Homo sapiens: one gene and its partner. The protein of the gene in region 2 purifies or fractionates together with the protein of the main gene of each other region. This does not show direct contact. Each region holds a gene or a part of one and is shown on either strand. Other genes may lie near its edges. The genes, in order: EDRF1 and NPAS2.

Region 1 (3,786 bases), on a different chromosome or scaffold from region 2:
ATGGTATTTCATTATATTAAACCGCAAAGCCACCAAAATGTTAAGAGGCCTGGATCTGTGAAAGCAATGAATATTAAAATACAGTAGAAGAGTAAATTCTAAATTCAAAAAGAGAAAAGAGAAAACCTTTGGCCTAACAAACTGCTACTGCTAGAATTTCTAGCAGGTCAATGCCAATGCAGTTGTCATATGATGATGAAATGCCTGCATCACCTGAAAATGAAAACAAAAATTTTTTTTAAACAAGTAAAATGCATCTTTCACTCTAATTCTATAGGAATCTAATAAACTTAAGATTTTAATTATTAAGCCTTGTTTATTTTTTTGCCAGAGGGCATGAAGTGGAAAAAGCAGTAGTCAAAAAATAAAACAAAAATTTGTTTAACATGGCCTCTCAGTATCTGTGGAGGATTGGTTCCAGGACCCTCCAGGAAACTAAAATTTGAGGAGGCTGGAGTCCCTGATATAAAATGGTGCAGCATTTGCATTTAGGCTGTGTACATCTTCCTATATACTTTAAATCAACTCTAGATGACTTATAATACCTAATACAATGTCAATGCCATATAAATAGTTGTTATACTATATTGCTTTTTAAATTTGTATTATTTTTTATTTATTTAATATTTTCAGTCTGTGGTTGGTTGAATCTGTGGATGCAGAATCCTTGGATACAGAGGGCTGATTGCATTTTCTTTCTTTTAGGTCTCATTCTGATTTCTCTCTATATTGCAAAAGAGAATGTTCATGTATTCACTGTGAAACAACTAAGCCTGTGGCAGAGGGTATTTTCCTCTTAACAATAAAATTATAGATGTTTTCATTTGCACATCAGTGAAAAATGAAATAGTCACTGACTTAGTAATTAATATTTTTGTTTTGAAACTTGTCAAAGTGTTTATTTTATTAACACATTATCACATTTAAGTTTAATAAACCTTAAAATCAATATAAATTAGCTAAATAAGATTGTATGTGTCATGCATGAAAACTTTAGATTACAATAGTTTTCAGCAGAATATTAATAACCTAAATAAACAGAAGCTTAGAAAACCTTCCATTAAAATAAAAATTACTTAGGTCATACATATGACTGTTACAGTTATAAAAGATAAAACTGAAACTATTACCTATTACCAATTACTCAAATGATTGACTTGTGAAAAATCAATGAATCACTTTTTCTCATGTATCATATATTTATATTACCATCTTGTGGAAACCAATACAAATTTAAAAACTTTACCCACTGCTGTTAGAAAAAGGCAGGAATTCTTTCCAAGCCTTGTTACCATATGCAGTATCTGCTCCGCCTTAGGGCTCTTCAAAAAGATGGATGTCTCTGCTAAATTACAGTGAGTGTATCAACACCCGCTGCTGTGTACCACAACCAGGATATGGTGCAGACACTGTGGATTAACAACCAAATAAGGCCAGGCGCGGTGGCTCACACTTGTAATCCCGGCACTTTGGGAGGCTGAGGCAGGTGGATCATGAGGTCAGAAGATCGAGACCATCCTGGCTAACACGGTGAAACCCCGTCTCTACTAAAAATACAAAAAATTAGCCGGGTGTGGTGGCGGATGCCTGTAGTCCCAGCTACTCGGGAGGCTGAGGCAGGAGAATGGCGTGAACCTGGGAGGCGGAGCTTGCAGTGAGCCGAGATTGCGCCACTGCACTCCAGCGTGGGCGACAGAGCGAGACTCTGTCTCAAAAAAAAAAATAAATAAAAATAAAAACACACACAACCAAATAAAAGCTCTCCTTAGACTATAGAGAATTATTCAAAAGCCATTTTTTTTCTTTTTTTTAAAGAGTTGGGTTTTGCTCTGTCTCCCAGGCTGGAGTGCAGTGGTGCCATCAGAGCTTGCTGTGGCCTTGAACTCCTGGGTTCATGTAATTCTCCTGCCTCAGTCTCCCAAATAGCTGGGATCACAGGTGTAAGCCATGGCACTTAGTTCAAAGGCAATTATTGAAAGAAGTTTCTATTCATGGTGCAGAACCGGAAAAAGTCTCTGGCTCAAGCAGGGCAAACTACAAGGTCATGGCTCTTCTTAAATCCATGAGAGAGGTGGGGCAGCCAACTAGCCTGCAATCTAAGGAGAGACAGGCTGATACAGGGAGAGAAAGGACAGTCCTTCCTTACCTGGGGCAGATGCAGCCAGATGCCAGTAAGCATTTAGCTAAAATAGTGAATGGGTTGGTGGGGGCCCAGTGAGGCTGGTGAGAAAGTATAGGGCCTCTGTGGAGTCAGGGGGTTCACATCTTCTTACTGGCTTTTCTCCAAGGACCTCACCAAATGCCCACATAAAAGACCAGTGAGAATCCTGACAGACTGACCCTCCTGCTGTAGACCTATGACAGGGTAACAGCAGCTGCTATGGGAGGGACCAGCAACCCCACCTGGACCCTTCTCCTCTATGAAACAAAAGACTCAATGGGGGTGGGGGAAGACAATGAACCCTGCCAACCTTAGGGCGTTGGTTAAAGTCAATGAAGAGAGGGGAAGGGAACAGAAAAAAACACTCTGAAGGGTTAGGTGGGGGTGCAGGAGCAGTGGGAAGGCCACAGTCCTGAGACTCAGGGACACGAGTGTCTGCCTGGACTGAGGCTTAAACAACTATGGAGTCCTTGCTAACTCCCTGCTCCCTCCCAAACAGGCGAAAAGGCACCGAAGGACCAGTGACAGTGGAATATGGCTGGAAGAACTGTGAGAGTATAAAGACAGACCCTCTCTAAGGTGCAAAACAAAAGAAAGACCTAGAGCTGAAGGTAGAGAAGACACTAAGAATCACCTTCTGCAGATCTGTTCCACCCTACACACGAGGACTGCTAGGAAAACTTGAAGCCTGTGGTACATGGAAGGTAACCATCGCAATAAAAAAATCTCAACCACAGCTCAACTCCAGGCTAGAAAAATGAATTCCACTTCCCACACTAAAGCCGTAGCAGGGGGAAAGTACAAAAAATTCCAGGCAAAAAAAAAATATTTCTCTTGGTCTCTACTATCATACATAAGGTGTCCAGTTTTCAACAAACAAGAGATATACGGAAGGCAAGGAAAAAACAACATACTTCCAAGAGACAAAGAATCAACAGAACCAGCTAATTATGACACAGATGTTGGAACTATCTCATAGGGAATTTAAAAGGACTATAATTAGTATGTTCAAGACACTAATGGACAAGATGGATGCCACGCAAGGTCAGATTGGTGATTTCAGCAGAGAGCTGGAACTGTAAGAATGAACCCAGGGCAATTGCTAGAAATAAGGAACATTGTAACAGAGACAAAGAATGCCTTCAAAAAGTTCAACTGTAGATGACACAAAACCAAGTAAGGAATCCATGAACTTGAAGACAGTTCAACAGAAATTACCCAAACAAAATCACAAAAAGGAAAAAATGGCATCAAAAAAACCAGAACGGAATATCCAAGAGCTGTGGAATAACATCAAACAGTCTAACATAGGCATAACGGGCTACAGAGGAGGAGAGAGAATGGAACAGAAGAAAGAAAAATGCTGAAGCCAGAGGTAAAAGCCATCACGACACACTCAAGCCTATCATAGTTAAACTGCTGGGGGGTGAGGCGCCTACAGGCAAGGAAGATGCATTTCTAACAGATGAACAAAAGTAGGAAACACAGCTGGCTTCTGGTCAGAAAACACACAGGCCAGAGACAATGGAGTGACATCTTTAAAGTACTGAATGAAAAGGACTGTTAACCCAGAATTCTATACTCTGCTCAAAGATCTTCCAAGACTGAAAAAAGAATAAAAACTC
Region 2 (3,417 bases):
GAAAATTTGGAGCTCATTTACATGTGGTCACTACTTCGAAGGCAAAAATTACTTCAAGCAAGTGCCAAGTATGTCAAAAGCAGGGAGGGTGAGAGCCACTGGTCCGCAGGTTCACGTGGGAGCCACACGTCTGCGTCTGCCAAGCTGCAGAAGGGCCTGGCCTTCCCTCACCCATGTGCAGGGTGCCCCTCTTCACCCCAGCCCTTCCCTGTCCTGGGGGGGCTTCCTCCCTGGCCTGCAGCCCCACCTGCACCTGCAAAGCCATGGAGAATGAGCAGTAGCTGAGACCTCTTGAGTACTGTAGATAGTGATGAAGATAGCTGTCCTTGAAGTTCTAGAACGTAATTTAATTCCAGTGCCGCTAAGCCATCTGTGCTATAATTTTCAGATCTCCCTGACCCCACACATAGTGGGAGTCAACTCAGACTTTGGCTTTGCAGATCTTGTCAGTTCTCGAGACCCAGAAGTGATTTTGGATGGGAAATGAGCAACAGACAAGTTTGCATGCACCTGTTGCAGACAAGATGCAGGCTATGAATACAGAGAGCGCTTCGGCCCACTCACTGCCCTTAGGGGCTTGGGGTGGGGTGCAGAGAGGTGGGTTAGCACAGAATGCAGTCAGGCTCGGATTTGGGAACAGTGGGAGTGCTGTGGTGGGGAAGCCTTTGTGGAGGAAGGGACTTGAGGAGAGGGAGGGCTCAGAAGGCACCCACTGCAGAGTCTGATGTCCAGGAAATGCCCGAAATGTGGGTGAGGGTGAAGATAAAGGGACAGTGTTCCAGCCAGACAGCCTGAGCAAAAGTTCAGGGCAGCTGTGCCTGGGCAGCTTTGAGAGCAGGGGGGTGCTGGGTTACTTGCAGGAGGAGATTTCATGGAAGGGAATAGTGGGTGATAAGACTGAAGTTTCCAAAGTCAGGCTTTGGTCAGTCAAAGCTTCTAAACTTCCAATCAAGATGCTCCTAGTAGGTGCTGGTGAATCTGGAGGTAGCTACGGGATCAGGGACCAGCAGTGAAAAGTGTACAAACTGTATGTGTGTTTGGATTCTGCCCTGTCAACTACCTGCATGTGGCCTCAGGTTCCATCATCCAAAAACATTGTGGCTACATGTAGATCATGTGCACGTGTTTACGAAACCATTCCCCATAGCCATAGCCACAGGCCTCAGTCGATTGGGCCAGAAGGTGCCCCCACTATTGGCGGAGAACTTAGCTTCAGAATTCACCCTAAGGTTCCCTTAGTCCCCATCCCCACCACACCCCCAGGTCTTGCCAGAGCCACCTCTCCCCACATGACCCCCCAAGAAAGACAGCCCTGTAGTCTAACTCAACCTGCAGCATGCCCCGCACTGCCTTGTAAGACAGTTGAGGAGCGGACATCAGAACCACCTCTGAAGCCCTTTGTTCTTTTTTTTCTAGGTACAGGCACCAACCTCTTTGCACAGTGAGCAGCAGGACTCGCTACTTCTCTCCACCTACTCACAACAGCCAGGGACCCTGGGCTACCCCCAACCACCCCCAGCACAGCCCCAGCCCCTACGTCCTCCCCGAAGGGTCAGCAGTCTGTCTGAGTCGTCAGGCCTCCAGCAGCCGCCCCGATAATGCCCCGGCACTGAAGTCGGGACACAATCAGCTTTAACCAATGGATGAGGGGGGTGGCCACAGGAGATGGGGAGAGGAGTCTGAACTAAACCCCTGGCTTTTGTGCACACTGCATACGTTTCAGAACTCCTGGATGGTAACCATCTCTGGAGTGCAGCGCTTGCTGCAGTGGAAATGATCAGGAATACTGACCGTGTTTCTCTTGCCTCCGAGGTTCTTGGGCACACTCTATAGCCATACTGGACAGGAACCAGGTGCCCCGTGTAGGCATCGTCGGTCGGTTTGCCGTCAGAGATGGCGCATCTCGCTGCATCCCCCGAGAGTACACCGGTTGCTCTAGCCACCTGCGGCCCGCCCATCTGCGCTAGCTGGCCTTCACGCTCTTGATCGTCTTTCCTTTGTATTGGAGAAGGACTGGGTCAGAGATCTGTTGGAGAGAGAGAATAAAGAGATTATTTTTCATTATTTTTAAATGGTTGTTTTTGTTTTAATTTGCACAGCTACACAGAGGAAATAACTTAGGCACTTTCTGTTTTTTTTAAAAAAATAATAAGGTCTCATGGCTTCATTTAGAGACCACAGTAACAACAGCAGCCCACCAATCAGAGAAGCTGGTTGTTATTAACCAAGCTACAGATTCACACTTTCTGGCCTAAACCCTAATGGGATGAGGCTTTTCACCCCAGGCCATGCTGGTGGTGATTTTTTAGCCCCTAAATAAAACACTGGACTATTTCCTGTTTACTTCATTGATTGCAACTACAAAGGTGGACTCAAAGCAAAGCACAATCATGCCAGCCAACATTCCAGAATTCTGCTGAGAACTCCAAGTCTGTGAGGGGAGAGGTTTTACAAGCCAGACAGGCCTGGGGGACTGCAGTCCCCAAGGAGACCCTGCCACATGCTGGCCCTTTGAGTGAGAATGCTGCATCTTTCTACATATCTTCATGAGAATACTGAGAATTGGATTTTCCTTTTCAAAATGCACTTTGCTTTTTTTGTATGTTTTGTTATGTTGAGATGTTTCTAAAGAAAAGATTTTATGTAATTATAAGATGAAGCGTAGTGAATTGTACAGCTGTTGTAATAATGACCTATTTCTATATAAAATAAAATTGTATGGCTTATGTGTAAATTATTTTGTATCTGAGATACCAGTTCCTTTTCCCAAATATAAAAGTATAAAAGTTTTCTTGTGTTTTTCTGTGAGTGAAAATTTTGTAATAAATTAACAAATTTGTACAATTTCCTCTGTCCCTTGTTATACATCCCTGCATACATCTTTTCACCAGTAATTCTTTTTTTCTAATTTCAAGATGTTTGAAGGATAATCAAAGATACGGAAAAGATGAAAGCAAGCCATCAGCTTTTTGAGCTGCAATATGTGCATCGGCCTATCAGGTTCTGATCTTTGTGTTAAAGTTTGTGCCCGAAAAACAAATGGTTTACTGTAGAAGTGACAGCAAAACAAAACAGAAAAAGTTTCTGGAAACATCTCAATCTTTTTTTTGTTTGTTTGTTTTGAGACAGCGTCTCTCTCTCTCTTGCCCAGCCTGGAGTGCAGTGGCACAATCTCGGCTCAATGTAAACTGTGCCTCCTGGTTCAAGTGATTCTCCTGCCTCAGCCTCCCGAGTAACTGGGATTACAGGCACCCACCACCATACCCCACTAATTTTTGTGTTTTTAGTAGAGACGGGGTTTCGCCATATTGGCCAGGCTGGTCTCGAACTCCTGACCTCAAGTGATCAGCCCACCTCGGCCTGCCAAAGTGCTAGGATTACAGGTGTGAGCCACCACACCCAGCCAACATCTCAGTC

Evidence for each region.
Region 1: the proteins of NPAS2 (region 2) and EDRF1 purify together in Homo sapiens (affinity purification with mass spectrometry; one large-scale study listed by BioGRID and IntAct). This does not show direct contact.

The regions. Positions count from the first base shown.
Region 1 is NC_000010.11:125,757,655-125,761,440, reverse strand, and holds part of EDRF1 (erythroid differentiation-related factor 1), read right to left. Parts: intron 1-3,786. UniProt on the Homo sapiens protein: Transcription factor involved in erythroid differentiation. Involved in transcriptional activation of the globin gene.
Region 2 is NC_000002.12:100,993,984-100,997,400, forward strand, and holds the end of NPAS2 (neuronal PAS domain-containing protein 2), read left to right. Parts: intron 1-440; exon of another isoform or gene 441-597; intron 598-1,416; coding exon 1,417-1,599; 3' UTR 1,600-1,812; coding exon of another isoform or gene 1,813-1,833; 3' UTR 1,834-2,846; downstream 2,847-3,417. UniProt on the Homo sapiens protein: Transcriptional activator which forms a core component of the circadian clock.